Linked DNA regions of Homo sapiens: region 2 is linked to region 1. Evidence: fine-mapped expression QTL. Tissue or cell type: blood mononuclear cells. Region 1 holds a variant in brackets; the other region holds the start of a gene. All regions are shown on one strand. Distances are between the middles of the regions.

Region 1 (8,340 bases):
AGTGTGCGTGTCCAAAGCCGGCAGCTCCAAGATGAGGCACCCGGCACATGAACTTCTAAAGGGCTGGGCTCCCAAAGCACCCTCCGCTCAGGACCCACACCATGCAGCCCAGCACCCAAACCCCTGGGGCTGGAAGGCACTTTTCACTACCTGGCAAAGGATGTCTTTAATGTAATCTCCACACAGCTCATGTCTCTTCAGATCAAAATATTCCATGATGTCCCAGTACCGGGCAGCGATGCGGCGGTCCTTGTGCTGATCACAGCAGCCGAAGGACTCATAGTCAGAGCAAAACTCAAGGTGCAGAGGGGGCTGGAAAGGGGGCCCGTAATCCAGGCACTGGGGGTGTCCCTGCAGCAAGCCCACCTGGCCCAACAAGAATATGAGGCAGAGGCAGAGAATGCCAGAAGAGAGCCAGGGGGCCCGGCAATGCAGACCACCACACAGATTAGGAGTGGACGTTCTCAGCATTTTGGCCTTGGGAACACTCGGGCTGCTGTGTTTGCTCAGGTTGGCTTCCCTGCTCTGCCCAAGGTCCTCCCTCTCTTCCTCCCCCTACTCCACCCTGTTTTCTCCTCCTTCCTCCTCTTCCCCGCCCCTCCCTGCTGAGGTAGTTTCTGAGCAGTGTCCCTTCTGTGGGCTCCCTTTGAAAGCAGTGGGAGGTGTCCCTTCCCCCCTCCCCCAACCCATCTAAACATGAAGCCCCACTCTAGTGCTGCTAGTGTTATGGGGGCACACCTTTGCTTAGCCAAAAGTGTAGTGGTGTCAATGGCAGAGGTGCTCGATTCCTTAAAACTGCAAAGAATTCCTGCTGTCTGTGGGGATGCCCGGAAATTCACACTTTTTTATGTTTCTTCACAGGCTGAGAGGCCCAGAGTCACCATGAGAGCACCATATATTACATCATCCCAGACTTCACACTCTGTAGAAGGAAAGCTTCAAGCGTTTCTACAGTGCTGAAGGGCCCCAAGGCGGTGGGAGATATGGAGGGGCCATGGCAGGAGGCAGGGTGTGCTGTATAGCTCCTGGGATCTGGCAAGGTGTATATTTGGAAGGGTAGGAAGAGAGGGCATTTCATGAATCTTGCATCCACAGTAAGGACCAAGGAGAGGAAGGAGGACACAGTGAAGGAAAAGAAGGGGAATCTTAGTCCATGCTGCTGTAACAAAACACCACAGACTGTAATTATAAATAATAGAAATGTATTGGTCACAGTTCTGGAGGCTGGGAAGTCCAAGATCAAGATGGCAGTAGGGGCTGGGCATGGTGGTTCATGCATGTAATCCCAGCACTGCGGGAGCCTGAGGCAGGAGGATTACTTGAGCCCAGGAGGTTGAGACCAAACTGGGCAATGCTGTGAGACCCCGTCTCTACAAATATAAAAAGAAAATTAACCAGCCATGGTGGTGCACACCTGTAGTTCCAGCTACTTGGGAAGCTGAGTCAGGAGGATTGCTTGAGCCCAGGAGTTTGAGGCTGCAGTCAGCTATGATCACGCCACTGCACTCCAGCCTGGGCAACAGAGCAAGACCATCTCTAAAAATAAAAAAAAATAAGAGATGCCAACAGGTTCAGTGTCCGACGAGGGCTCTGTTCCTCATTGATGGTGACTTGTTGCTCCCATGGTGGGACAGGATGGTTCAAATCCACTCCTTCAAGACCTTTTATAAAGACCCTAATCCTATCCATGAGGCCTCTGCCTTCATGACCTAATCACCTCCCAAAGGCTCCACTTCTTAATACTATCACATTGGCGATTACATTCCAATCTATGAATCTGAGGTAGGGAGGGACACATTCAGACCATAGAAGAGGGAGGTGGTCCAGTGAAAACAAGGAATCAACAAGGACTGTTTGGGACAATTTCCTCAGGAAGCACAGGACAACTGGGTGCCTTCCTTTGCCAAATCTATACCTGCTGTAGGGACACTCCTCCTCACTTAGTATATGTTCCCACATTAGTATTTTAAAAATGTGTTTTGTGGCCGGGCACAGTGGCTCATGCCTGAAATCCCAGCACTTTGGGAGGCCGAGGCGGGTGAATCACCTGAGGTCCGGAGTTCAAGACCAGCCTGGCCAACATGGTGAAATTCCATCTTTCCTAAAAATACAAGAATTAGCGGCCAGGTGTGGTAGCTCACACCTGTAATCCCAGCACTTTGGGAGGCCAAGGCGGGCGGATCACAAGGTCAGGAGTTCAAGACCAGCCTGGCCAGCATGGCGAAACCCCGTTTCTACTAAAAATACAAAAAATTAGCTGGGCATGGTGGCGCATGCCTGTAGTCCCAGCTACTCAGGAGGCTGAGGCAGGATAATTGCTTGAACCCAGCAGGCGAAGGTTGCAGTGAGCCGAGATCATGCCACTGCATTCCAGCCTGGGTGACAGAGCAAGACTCCATCTCAAAAAAAAAAAAAATTAGCTGGGTGTGGTGGCGGGCGCCTGTAATCCCAGCTACTTGGGAGGCTGAGGCAGGAGAATCGCTTGAACCCAGAAGGCAGAGGTTGCAGTGAGCTGAGACTGTGCCATTGCACTCCAGCCTGGGCAACAAGAGTGAAACTCCATCTCAAAAAGTAATAATAATAAAATAAATATAAAATAAAATAAAAACGTGTTTTCCTTTGTCCACATCCCTTGCACATAACAGGCTTTGATAAATATTTCTTGAATGAATAAATGCAGAACAGGAGTCCCAAACTCACACAGCCCCAAACCCAAACAAGCATGAGCCAAGGTGTAGGCCAATGGGGACATTTGGCACTTGAGCTAACTCTCCTTTCAGCATTTTCCATGGTTCTGGTCCACCTTGAATTTCCTTACTGGCAAAAGCTTCTGTTTGAAACGCAGATGAAGTCCAAGTTTCTTCTTGTTCCAGATGTGCTGCTTCAGAGGGTGCCCTACCTGGCTGCCCAACTCATCGCCAGAAACAGTATTTGCCAGGGTATCATCAAGAAGGGACAGTGAACCTCAGTCTAGCCAAGTCTATACTCACAATGTTCTGGATTATGAAAGCCCCAAATAGCATTTAAAATACAAACAAAATTGGCCAGGTGTGGTTAATGCCTATAATCCCAGGACTTTGGGAGGCCAAGGCAGGAGGATCATTTGAGCCCAAAAGTTTAAGACCAGACTGGGCAACATAGTGAGACCCTGTTGCTATAAAAATTTTTTAAATTAGCTGGGTGTGGTGGCGTGTATCTGTAGTCCTAGTTACTTGGGAGGCTAAGGTGGGAGAATTGCTTGAGCATAGGAGTTCGAGGCTGTGGTGATCTGTGATCACACCGCTGCACTCCAGCCTGGGTGACACAGGAAGATCCTGTAGATAGGTAGGTAGGCAGAAAGATAGATGCATAGATAGATAGATAGATAGATAGATAGATAGATAGATAGATAGGAGGGAGTAGTCAGAATGATCATCAGAATAGTCCTGCTTTCCTATTTGTACTGTTCAGTACTACACCTAGTTGGCCGGGTGCAGTGGCTCATGCCTGTAATCCCAACACTTTGGGAGGCTGAGGCGGGTGGATCACTTGAGGCCAGGAGTTTGAGACCAGCCTGGCCAACATAGCGAAACCCTGTCTCTACTAAAAATATAAAAAAATTAGCTGGGTGTGGTGGCACACGCCTGTAATCCCAGCTACTCAGGAGGCCGAGGCAGGAGAATCACTTGAACTCAGGAGGTGGAGGCTGCAGTGAGCCGAGATCACACCACTGCACTCCAACCTGAGTGACAGAGTGGGACTCTGTTTAAAAAATATATATATATATAATATACCTAGTTGAGTGGTGCTTTTTAAAACATGGGTCACACCTATAATCCCAACACTTTGGGAAGCTGAGGTGGGTGGATGGCTTGAGCCCAGAAGTTTGAACAGACTGGGCGACATAGTGAGACTCTGTCTCTAGAAAAAAAAATAAAAATAAAAAATTAGCCAGATGTGATGGCGCATGGCTGTGGTCCCAGCTACTCAGGAGGCTGAGGTAGGAGGATTGCTTGAGCCCAGAAGTTCAAGGCTGCAATGAGACATGATTGCACCACTGCACTTCAGCCTGGGTGACAGAGTGAGACCCTGTCTCAAAATAAATTAAAATTAAAATAAAATAAATGTCATCCATGATTCACTGTTGACTGTGCTATTTCTTCTGGGTTATTTGCTCAAATGTCACAGAATGTCATGCTTCTGGAAGCCTTAAGCAGGAGGAGTAAC[A/G]TGGACTAATTTCAGCCAGTGAATTCACCCCCACTGCCTTCTCAGAACCATCAAACCCTGGGATATGGAAGAATGAGTGCATTATCTCATCCAGGTAGGACCTGAGAGTATTTTCTGATCTTCTCATGACATTTATGTATCGATTTCCCCTTTGTCGTGAACAATATGGAGATCTTATTGTTTTGAGCAGAGTCACTGCAAGATTAGCAGGGAAAGATGGGCGGGCAGAATCTGATCAGACAGTGACAGCATGAGTTTCTGATTACTAAAATATGTAACATTTCAGACGATACTACGTTTTAGATATAATCGTGTATGTAATTATGGCCAGGCATGGTGGCTCATGCCTGTAATCCCAGCACTTTGGGAGGCCGAGGTGGGCAAATCACAAGTTCAGGAGTTCGAGACCAGTCTGACCAACAAGGTGAAACCCTGTCCCTACTAAAAAAAAAAAAAAAAAAAAAAAAAAAAAAAAAAAAAAAAAAAAAATTAGCTGGGCGTGGTGGCATGTGCCTGTAATCCCAGCCACTCAGGAGGCTTAGGCAGGAGAATCACTTGAACTCAGGAGGCGGAGGTTGCAGTGAGCAGAGATTGCGCCATTGCACTCCAGCCTGGGTGACAGAGCGAGGCTCTGTCTATATACATATATATGTAATTATATAATAATCATGCAATAATTTTACAAAAGATGTCTTGGTGTCAATTCAGTAAATACATACTATTTTGTGTGAAGTATTATGCTGGAATAGAAATGTTTAACAGAAAACTGACATATAAAACAAACTTTTTCAAGGAGTTTATGCTCTGAGAAAAAAGGATGAAAGTATCCAAATAATACTGGCAGATATAAGATTAAGGTAACAGTAAGGGAGGAACAAACTGCCATTAGGGATCCCAAGGACGGAGAGATGACATTCGGCTGCAGGGGATTAAGAATATCATAATGAAAGTTGACTGGAGCTTTTAGATAAGTTATAGATGGAAAAGAACAGAAAAGACATTTTCACTGAACATTAGGTGAGCTTATAAAATAACTCTGAAACTATAAGCTAGGACCAGACAGAGTATCTGAAATCACTTCAGTTTCCACTTTTGAAGCAAACATAATCCTTTAAAAAATTAGCTTGGGCTGCTGTTAACACAGCCACAAACTTGGTGGCTTAAACAACAGAAATGTATTGTCTCACAGCTCGGGAGCCCAGAAGTCTGAGATTAAGATGTTGGCAGGGTTGGTTCCTTCTGAAGGCCGCAAGGGACACTGCTCCATGCCTGATCCCTAGCTTCGTGGGGTCTGCCAGCAATCTTGCATTCCGATTGTGGATGCATCACCCCAAGCTCTGTCTTCATGTTCACATGGTGCTCCTTCTCCCTGTGTGCGTTTGTGTCCAAATTTCCCCTTTTATAAGGACACCAGTCATACTGGATTAGTGCCCACCATAATGACTTCATTTTAACATGATTGTCTCTGTAAAAACTATCCCCAAATAAGGTCACATTCTGAGGTACTGGGGGGTAGGACTTCAACCATTCTTTTTTAGGGGACACAATTCAGCCCACAGCAGTAACACACACATTCACACACACGCACACAGTTTCATATAGCATGTGCCTTTTAACATCCCCCCCGCCGCCCCGCACAAGACAGGGTCTCAGTGTCACCCAGGCTGGAGTGCCAGTAGCTGGAACTGCAGGTGTGTGCTACCACGCTCAGTTAATTTTTACTTTTTTTTTTCTTTGTAGAGACGGTGGTTTCACCATGTTGCCCAGGCTGGTCTTGAACTCCTGGGCTCAAGTGATCTATCCCCCTCGGCCTCCTAAAGTGCCGGGATTATAGGCATGAGCCACCATGTCCAGTGCAAGTGCCTTTTAAAAAGTGATGTTGAGAGTCAGGTGTTTATCCTAAATCAGGTCATGGAACACAACAGAAAAAATATAAAAAGAAATGTTCTAGCTCAGTAGCTTCTCATATAGTTTACTGATGTAACTATCTATCTGCCTTCAGACTCCCTCTGTCACAGTCTAAAGATGAACAGGTTGTACCTCAGATTAGAGAAAGTATAACAACTCACTTGTACGAAGCATTACAGTTTACAAAGTATTTCCCCACACTGCATTTCATTTGATCTTCAGTTCTCTCAAGACAATTAAGTCAGCAAGGTAGATATATTACCAGTGAGCATATGAATGAATGAAGTCCAAGAGGGGTTCAGTGAAATATTTTAGGGCCCCACTTTAGATGAATAGAGATGGCAACACAATTCAGGTGTTCTGAATTACAGCCCAGATCTTTTTCATTCCATCAGGATGTACCCAAAAAGAACGAAAGTAGTTATCACTTTTATTTGTTCTTCATTTGGAAAAATTTGTCTGATGCAGCCTACTGAAGAGTGTATTGACTGAAGATTCAGTTCCATTGATAAGATTATCTGGGAGTTCTTGGTATAGGCAGGAGGGGAGTTGTAATTAAACAACTGGCAGTGGTATCACTATGGGACTGACGGGCGGAAACAAAGAGCCGCCTCTACTCACTGAGCTAAAGGCTACCTTCATAACTATGAAAACAACATAGAAGTCAGCTTCGTATTTTTTATGGGACTGAGTCGACTCTTACCTGGTGGCAGATTGGTTTAGAAGCATGAATCTTGGATTGACTTATTCAGATGTTAGTCATATTATTTGTAGACCATCCATCAAAGGTCTTGCTTGTTTCCTTTTGGAATATTTAAAATACAAAGATTCTAATTCAATCCAGCAGAAAAAGCCCTTGTGCTGTAAATATAGGTAAATAACTGGGTCCAAAAGGGCACACCTATCTGTTTTTTTAATTTTTGTTGCTTTTCCTTTTTCAAAAATGTTAACATAAAACAATGTTTCTATTTATTGAGAAAAAACATTTACCAGGACCCATGCTCAGCACTTTACATCAACCTTTCCAGACCATCCCATTTTACAGAATAAAGGTGAGGCCCAGGCTAGGTGGGGGGCTTCAGTCATGCTGGAATTTGAACCCAGACCTTTCTGACTCCATAGAACATTCTTTTATTTCTTTTTATGAGGGGAGGTGGGAAGGGAATGGGGTGTTGACAGCTTTACAGAGATGTAATTCACATTCCATATAATTAATCAGCTAGGGACTAATAATCCAAAATATAGAAAGAACTCATACAACTCAATAACAAAAATATAATTCCACTTTAAAATGGGCAAAGGACCTACATAGACACTTCTCAAAAGAAATTCAAATTGCTAACAGGTATATGAATAAGTGCTCAACATCTCCAGTCACGACGGAAATGCTAATCAAACCAGGAGATACAGCCTCACACCTGGTAGAATGAATCGTATCAAAGGTCAAAGATAAGTGCTAGGGAGGATGAAGAGAAGAGGAAGCGCTTGTATGCTGCTGTTGGGGATGTAAATTATGGAAAACAATATGGAGGTTCCCCCAAAAAATTGAAAATAGAAATATCTGGGTATATACCCAAAAGAATTGAAATCAAGGTTGCAAAGAGATATCTGCACTCCTATGTTCATTGCAGCATTACTCAACGTCCTTTGATGAATAAAGATAGGGTTTATAAAATTACAATTACATACTGCTCAGCCTTATAAAAGGAAGAAATCCTGCCATTCAGAACATGGAGGACATTATGCTGAGCAAAATTAAAATAGGCAAGACACAGAAAGAGAAATACTGCACGATCATCTCACTTGTATGTGAAATCTGAGTCCAATTCATAGAAGCAGAGGGTAAGATGGTTGCCAGGGGCTGAGGGAAGGGGGAAATGGAGTGATATTGGTCAAATGGTACAAAGTTTCAGTGATACAAGATGAACGATTTCTGGATATCCAATGTCCAGCATGGTGATGACAGTTCAGTACTGTATTACATACTTGTAATTTGTTAAGAAAGATCTTATATCTTCTCATCACACATACATACACAATACATACATAATGGTAATTATGTAGAGGTAATGAAGATATTAATTAGCTTGATTATAGTGATAATTTCAGAATGTATATCAAAACATCAGGTTGTACATCCTAAATATATACATTCAGAGGTTTCAAGGAGAAAACAAGACTTTAAATTATCTTTAGTTATTGCTAACGTGTCTTAAAATAGTCGTG
Region 2 (8,340 bases), 39 kb after region 1:
GGAAACTTATCAATCTGTCAACAAGTATTTTTTGGGCACCACTGTGTCCCAAGCACTATCGCAGGTACTCATCATACAGCTTCAATCCAGACTGGCCCTGTCTTCAAAGTTTTTATTCTAAGGGGGTTGCTGGGCATGCCCTTCAAAAAGCCAAAAGATATCTACCAGCATAAAAAATAAATAGAACAATTGTTAGGCAATTTTGTTTTCCTATTATGGTTAATTACCAGCACAATGTCAATATTAATTGCAAGTATTTTCTCATTGCAGACCAAAAGTATTTTCGGTTTAACAGGCTATCCATGACATATAAAATATTCCTAAGCATGTAAATTTTGGTCTTTGGTCTTAAACCTATCTGCTTGCAGACTGACTCAGACTTTCTATAGAACACTGGTAACAGAAACATACCCAAGTATGACTTAACTATAGGAAATTTAAATTACTAGTTTGTTCCCTACCAGGGATGCGGTAGCACTACCTCTGAAGTATCATTCATTCAAATCTGCCTTAAGCCATGTGCATTAATCTAGCAAAAATAAAATGAGGAGAGGAAAGGCACTATTATTTTTCAACACTCATTATGCATGAGATACTATGCTAGGTACTTTACATATATTGTCTCATTTTTAAAAATGCATCTCAGTCGTTAAAAGTGTAAGCTTTGAGATCAGACAAACCTGGATTTGACTCCTGATACCACTTAAGAGTTTAATGTCTTTGAGATTCAGTTTCATCCTACCTAAACTGCCTAGCATAAAAATTTATTGAGAATTTACTGAGATCATTAAATGGGATGATACTTAGATCAAAAGAAAAAAATGGAAGCGAAATTTTAGGAGCCAAGGAATCTCTGTCAAGGGGAGAAAAGGCTGGGCAAAAAAACACATATTTAAGGGCAGTAAGTAAAATGCTGGTTCAAATGTAATCCCAGGACTATACCACTCAATATGCCAGCATACAGATAATAGCTTCTTTTATTTATACTTATATTAAATATATTCTTATAGGGAATTTATCCCATAGAAAAACATACTTGCATTTATATTAGATAAAAATGGGGGAAATTTTATCCCATAGAAAATCATGCTTGCATTTACATTAGATAAAAATGGGGGAAAATGCTCTTTTATCTAGGCCGGGTGCAGTGGCTCATGCCTGTAATCCCACCACTTTGGGAGGCTGAGGTGGGCAGGTCACTTGAGGTCAAGAGTTCAAGAACAGCCTGCCCAACATGGTGAAACCCTGTCTCTATTAAAAATACAAAAACTAGCCAGGCGTGGTGGCTGGTACCTGTAATCTCAGTTACTCGGGAGGCTGAGTAGAATCACTTGAACCTGGGAGACAGAGGTTGCAGTGAGCCAAGATCTAGCCACTGCACTCCAGCGTGGGCAACAGAGCAAGACTCTGTCTCAAAAAAAAAAAAAATCTATTACACGATCAATTCTATTCGAAATAATTTCAATGCAATTCAACAGCAACTTCTTGAACACTTCCTAGGCATGTTTTCCTCAATGGCAGAGACCATATCTTCACCTATGACTCCCCAATATTTAATCAATGCCAGAGATAAAAGTGCTCAGTAAGTATTACTGGAAAAAATGTGTATCTAGCATAATACAGACTATCTATTATTAATCCAAGGGCAAAGAATTCTAAAAGAAAAAAGATTTCTTTTGGCTTTTAGCCAAAAAACCCTCCACATATTCCTCTTGAAAATTAAACCAGTCTGGTTATTCATTTTGTATCCCTATTGAATCTTACCACCTCCTTAAAGTTAAAATGGCTCAATGTTATTATTTTACTTACCCACAGTTTCTACGTATGTTTGAAGCCAAGGAAAATGCATTCCTGCACCACTGAGCACAGATGTTTCCACTTCTTCATCATCTGTCACAGGCCCTTTTAATTCTTCACTGAAATCACTCATACCTATTACAAGATGAGATATCAGTTACTTTCTGTACATCTTAATCCACAGTCTTCTGAGTTGTACAGAAAAACGGCTATCTTTTTATCTAATAAATATAATTTGATTAGCAAAATGCATTATACCTGTCAGCTCTTTTAAAGTAAAAAATGAATTTAACTATGTCAGCAACAGCCAAAATGAATGATCCATTAAAGACCGAACCACTAATGTTTCAAGTCCATGTAAAGATAAATAAGATACTGCCCCTCTAATTTAAAAAATCTCAAGTCTAGACGAAGAAACAGCAAAACGTATAATAACAAAACAATATGAAAAGTACAGTAAGAATAGAAGTAGCAGCTAATATTTATTAGGCCCTTACTATGCACTAGAAGTATAAATTATCTAATTTAATCCCCACAGCAATCCTGAGGTGGGTACTATTACTTTCTTCCATGTGAAGGTTGAAAAAACTGAGGGGCTTAGTGAAATGATGGAACCTGCCTAACATCACAAAAAATGGTGAGGACGATAGTCTAGGAAATAGAACACCAAACTACTTGGCATGACTAGAATTCGAGGTGCGTGTGGAGGAGGGGTGCGGAAGGTGAGAAACGAACCTAGAAAAATCATCATAAGCCAAGGTGAGTTTAGACTTACTCCTAAAGATGCTCAGGGCCCCTTCCTCATTACCCATATGAAATCGAGTATTAGTGCCCCTGATACTACCTCCAAATTTCCCCTATTTCCCCTCTTCAATCCTACAGCACTACTCTAGTTCAAGACCCCTTCAAACAGTGCCTAGATTACCGCATCAGCTTTCTAAACAATTACCCTGGCTCAGATTTTGCATCTCTGCATTATACCCAGAGTAAACCTTCTAAATTCAAAGCATGTGGCTAGGAGTATGAATTATAAGTAACAACTGAATTTGAATCCGACCCATCACGTGTTTTCAGGAGTAGTTACACAAATCCTCCCTTTCCAAATCCTCAAAAACCCAAATTGGTGACCCGCAGTTGCCACGGCAACCAAAGCTTCTCTATCCCCTTCTTTCGTTTTCAGACCCCAAGGGTTTCAGGTATTAGGAGGAAATATCAGGAGAACATGGATGAATCCTGACACACCCCTTCCCGTTCCATTTAAACGCAGGAACCACGGGCGATATCTGCGGCACTTACCCGCCTAAATTTAGAGCTCCTCAGTAAAGCTAAACTCAGTCTCCGACTCCGGCCCACGTGAAGAAATTCCCACCGGAAGACGAGTTAGGAGAGCTTTATATGAGCAGGCGCTAAACCTGGTTTAGGTATTTAGGCAGCGCGCGGCCCGGCTCGTAACTCCTCCTGCTGCAGCAGGCGTATCGTTGGCCTCGCCTCGACCCCGGAAGTGACTTCTGGAAGTGACCCAGGAAGTGACAGTGAGCTGCCTCTCTGCGATTGGTTTTGCCCGAGTTTTATTTTTGTCTGTCTCAGCTAGAAAGTGGGAGACTTTCATTTAAAATGGAAATTGGGGCGAGGGGTTGGCGGCTGGGCGAAGGGAGCATTCAAAAGCGGAGAATGTCACTTTACCCGAGAAATTCACTACGATGGGCCATTGGTTTCTGCTCGGCTCGCAGGCGCACTGCACGAGTGGAGGTGTGGCTAGTGGCTGTGATGAGATAAATCCATGCATAGCCTTTTCATTGCGAGCTTGAAAGTTCTTTTCTATTACAGTTTTAGCTTTAGGTTTAATTGGTTCGACTGCCTTCTCCACAATTTGGGCGAGAATTTCCTTTGCCTTCTCAGCAAAAGTTGTTCTGCGGACCCGTCTGGGTCAACTTTCATGAGGGACATTGAGACAAACAAATGAAATATGGGTTAAAGGTAAGATGGTTAAACCGTGTGAAATGAGAGACAGTTGAGGGGTTCTAGGGAAGATGATCCCGGAAAAGGACTGCAGGCCCATGGAAACGCAGTGTGCTTCTCCAATATTTGGAGGGCTGATCAGTGAAAGAAGGATCAGACCCTTTTTCTTAGCAGCAGAGAACAGAACTAGGACTAATAAGTGAAAGGTAAAGGGAGGCTGCTTTCAAGTCACAGCAAGAAAGAATTTTGTCCACAAATGAGGATGCACAAATATAGCATAGGCTCCCCCAGGAATCACTGAGTTTCCTCTGTGTAGGTGAACAGTTTGAGTAGAATCGGAGTATCGGAGAGGAAATTAAAGGGTCTGGTAAGAGTTTGAGGCCGGGCGCGGTGGCTCATGCCTGTAATCCCAGCCCTTTGGGAGGCCGAGGCAGGCGGAAAGTTTGAGCTCAGGAGTTCGAAACCAGCCTAGTCAACATGATGAAACCCCGTCCCTACAAAATAAAAATAAAAAAAAATAAGCTGGGGTGATGATGCATGCCTCTAGTCCCAGCTACTCGGGAGGATGAGGTGGGAGGATCACCTGAGCCCAGGGAGGTCGAGGCTGCAGTGAGCTGTGATCACCCTACTGCACTCCAGCCTGGGCGACAGAATGAGACCCTGTCAAAAAAAATTTTGTACATGGATTCCTTAAAATGCTACAAATAGTTGATTCTATGTTGTCTTCTGCATAAAACAATATGCAGTAGTTAAGGACTTGCAAGAAAAGTTCCTTCTGCTGCTCTCTCTGTCATTAGTTCTTGAGTCCTCACTCAAGCTTGTGCTCTAACTCTACAGGCAGGGCTAACATAAATTATGCGTAGTCCAGGAGACCACACACAAAATAACATACATAATCATTACTTTCTTGTCTAGAGGCTTAGTCTGGCTACTTTTCTCCCATTGGCTTGAGGTGTAAATTCACCAAAACCAGCCCAGAAATGATTTTACATGGAAAAAAGTTTATGTTCTCCCGAAAATGAGGAAGAGCTTTCAGATTTTCCTCGAAGTTCTCAAACAGCTCTAAGGAGCAGTAGGAAACGTGCCCTACCTATGCTTTTTCTTTCCCATGCTGCAATTCTGACAGAAAATGTGTTGGAGAGAAGAGATAAAAAAAATCAACTAGATCACATCCAATAGCATAAACAAGAAGGAAGGAGGGAAGGTTGCCGTGGCAGGCATCTGTAGTCCCAGCTACTCCAGAGGCTGAGGCAGGAAGATCGCTGAGCTCAAAAGTTCAATTCCATCCTGGGCAACATAGCAAGACCATGTCTCAAAAAAAAAAAAAAAAAAGGCATGACAAATATGAAAACATAAAGCATGCAAAGACTTTTCTAGATTTCAATCTATAAGAAAACATGTCCTAAGAAAAACATGTTCTTACAATTACTTTGTGCTACAGAGCAACTTAATATGGTGATGAATTATGTTGTTTTTAAAGTTGCAAACTGTCATTTAAGGAATATTATTTCCATGAACGCTTCCTGTGCAATCTATTAAAGAACAAACTTCACATAGCCAAACAGTTGAAGAGACCTCATCATAAATAGACTATCCTATATCACAGCTAACGAGAATAAAAAAGGAATGTGGCATGAAAGCATAAAAATAAAAACATCTCAGATAATAATATAGAGAAAACCAAAATACATGGGCTAGAATTCCACCCCAGGGACTGTATCCTCAAAGACACAGGTTTTTCTTCCTTTTTCTTTTTTTTTTCTTTTCATGTTTCAGTACTCTGAGCAGCTACAAAAAGAAGACCAGTCTATCCTGCTGGAGACAGTGGCCACGTGAAGAAAGAGCTCTTGCAGTATGAAAGACCACATGGAAAGAGAGGCCACATGGAACCAACAGTCAGCATCTTGGTTTCGGACACGTGAAGAAATTCATCTCAGACTGTGTATCCTAAATCAGGCACTTGCTGAATCTAACTACATGAGTGAGACCAGTTGACAACACATGGAGCAGACATGAGCTGTTCTCAGTGAGTCCTACACAAATTCCTGACTCACAACACTGTGAGCAATAAAATGGTTGTTATTTTAAGCCACTGAAGTTTGCAGTGATTTCTTACATAGGAATAGATAAATGAAACACAAACATTGATCATTTGCATCTTCTATCTTTTTTATGACTAGTCTTATTGGAAATTACCAGTTTATTTCTGCCATGGTTAGAAAACAAACTCTGAAATTTTGATACTTTAAAATTTTTTTGAGACTTACTGTGCCCAGAATATAGTCTATCTTGGTGAATGTTCTGTGAGCACTAGACAAGAATATGTATTCTGTAGTTATTGAGCATTGTGTCCATCAATGTCAACGTGATTAAGGTGGTTAATAGTTGTCTTCAGATCTTCTATATTGTATTGATTGTTTTATGTGTAGTGTTGCTATTAATTATTGATACAGGAGTGTAAAACTTAAACTATGGCTGTGAATTTGCCACTTACTTTAGTTTTGTCAGCTTTTCTTTTGCATTTTTGAAGCTCTGTTATTGGGCATATAAACATTTATGGTTCGTGTGTCTTCCTGATGAATTGACCATTTTATCATTATGAAATGTCTTTATTGCTGATAATACTCCTTATCTTGAAGTCTAATTCATCCGATATTAGTATAGCCACTGCAGCCTTCCTAGCTTACTGTTTACTGGTATATTTTTATCCATGTTTTTACTTTCAACCTGTGTTTTTTAATTTAATGTGCTTCTCTTATAGACAACAGATAGTTGAGTTTGTCTATCATTTTGCTATTTGTTTTCGATTTGTCCCATTCAGTTTTGTGTTCCTTTGTTCTTTACTTCCTGCTTTCTTTTGGGTTAATTAATGTTTTTATATTTCATCTTAATTCCTCTGTTGGCTTTAACTGTATCTTTTTGCATTATTGCTTTACAGTGTTTCTGAGAATTATGATATACATTCTTAACTTATCACAGCCTTAGAGTTAAAATTATGATACTTCATGTAAAATAAAAGAGCCTTGCAATAGTAAAGTTCTACTTACCACCTCCCCAAGTCCTTTGTGCTTTGTTGTCATATATATCATATCTATGCACATTGTTATTTTTGCCTTAGTCATATGTATCGCAAAGAAATTAAGAGAAGAAAAGTATATATTACCTTTTGTGTATTTACCTACATTTTGCTATTTCCAGTTCTTTTCATTCCTTCCTGTTTGTGGTGAATTATCTTTAAGAATAGCTGTCAAAAAGTATTCACATTCTTGTATGTGCATGTTGCTTCTCCCTTTAAGAAATAGAATCAGCTGGGCATGGTGGCTCACGTCTGTAATCCCAGCAATTTGGGAGGTCAAGGCAGGTGGATCACAAGGTCAGGAGTTCAAGACCAACCTGAACAACATGGTGAAACCCTGTCTCTACTGAAAATACAAAAAAAAAAAAAAAAAAAAAATTTAGCTGGGCGTGGTGGCACATACCTGTAATCCCAGCTACTCAGGAGGCTGAGGCAGGAGAATCACTTGAACTTGAGAAGCGGAGGTTGCAGGGAGCCAAGATTGCACCATTGCACTCCAGCCTGGGTGACAGAGCGAGACTCTGTCTCAAAAAAAAAAAAAAGAAATAAGAAATAAAGTCTGTGTTCCCACCCCTTGAATCTGGGCTGGTCTTTTAACTTTGATGAACAAAACATGGTGAAAATGATGTCATACCAATTCTAGGCCTAGCCCCTAAGAAGCCATACACCTTTACTTTTATCCTCTAGAAAGCTGGCCAACAAATAAGTAAGTTTAGGGTAGATTACTAAAGAATGAAAAACATTTCAGCCAACCATCCCAACCATTTCAGCCACACAGCTGAACTACCAGACATGTGAATGAAGCTAGTTTGGAAGTTCCAGCCCTGGCTAAGCATCCAGCTGAATGCAGCCACCTGAGTGACCCCAGCCAATAATATCCAGAGCAGGAGAATCATCCAGGTAAGCAAAGCTATAGAATAGGTAGAAATAATAAATAATTATTATTTTAAATTACTAAATATATTACATCAAAAGAATAACTAAAACATTACAGATTTCAGTTTCCATCTGGTATGTCATCGTCTTTCATCCTGAAGAATTTTTTTTAGCATTGCTTACAGTGGAGGTCTATTGGTGTAGAATTTTCTGTTTTTATTTATCTGAAAATGTCTATTCTGCCTTCAGTTTTGAAGGATTCTTTAGATATAGGATTCTGGATTGGCAGTTTTTGTCCATCAGCACTTTAAGCCCTCTGATGATGTTAACTTCTTCTTTTTGATGAGAAGTCAGCTATCACTTTATTATTTTTGTCCATGTGTAATGTATTATGTTTCTCGGACTGCCTGCAAAACTTTTCTTTCCCAATACTTGGTTATTTGCAGTTTGACCATAATGTGTCTAGGTGTGATTTTCTCTGTAATTAGACTATTTGGCATTCACTGAGTTTCCTAGATTTGTCCATTTCTTTTATGATAATTTGAGATATTTTCAGCCATTATTGTCTTAAATATTTTTTTCTGTGCAATTATGCTTCTGCTCCCCTTCTGGGGCTCCAATTATATGTATGT

What was found. PIP is the estimated chance that this variant, and not a neighbour inherited with it, causes the effect.
Region 2: TAF1A-AS1 starts here. The variant in region 1 is fine-mapped to the expression of TAF1A-AS1 in blood mononuclear cells (TOPMed, PIP above 0.99).

The regions. Positions count from the first base shown.
Region 1 is chr1:222,547,574-222,555,913 of GRCh38, forward strand. It overlaps HHIPL2 (HHIP like 2), which reads right to left and starts at 531. Exons shown (of 9, transcript NM_024746.4): 1 at 151-531. The coding sequence starts at 471. It also overlaps a transcript of TAF1A not described here. The variant A/G (reference allele first, on the strand shown) is at 4,207.
Region 2 is chr1:222,586,634-222,594,973 of GRCh38, forward strand. It overlaps TAF1A-AS1 (TAF1A antisense RNA 1), which reads left to right and starts at 3,287. Exons shown (of 3, transcript NR_110613.1): 1 at 3,287-3,329; 2 at 3,625-3,774; 3 at 5,533-6,000. It overlaps TAF1A (TATA-box binding protein associated factor, RNA polymerase I subunit A), which reads right to left and starts at 3,300. Exons shown (of 11, transcript NM_005681.4): 1 at 3,094-3,300; 2 at 1,810-1,932. The coding sequence starts at 1,930. RefSeq lists enhancers at 3,267-3,800, 3,801-4,333.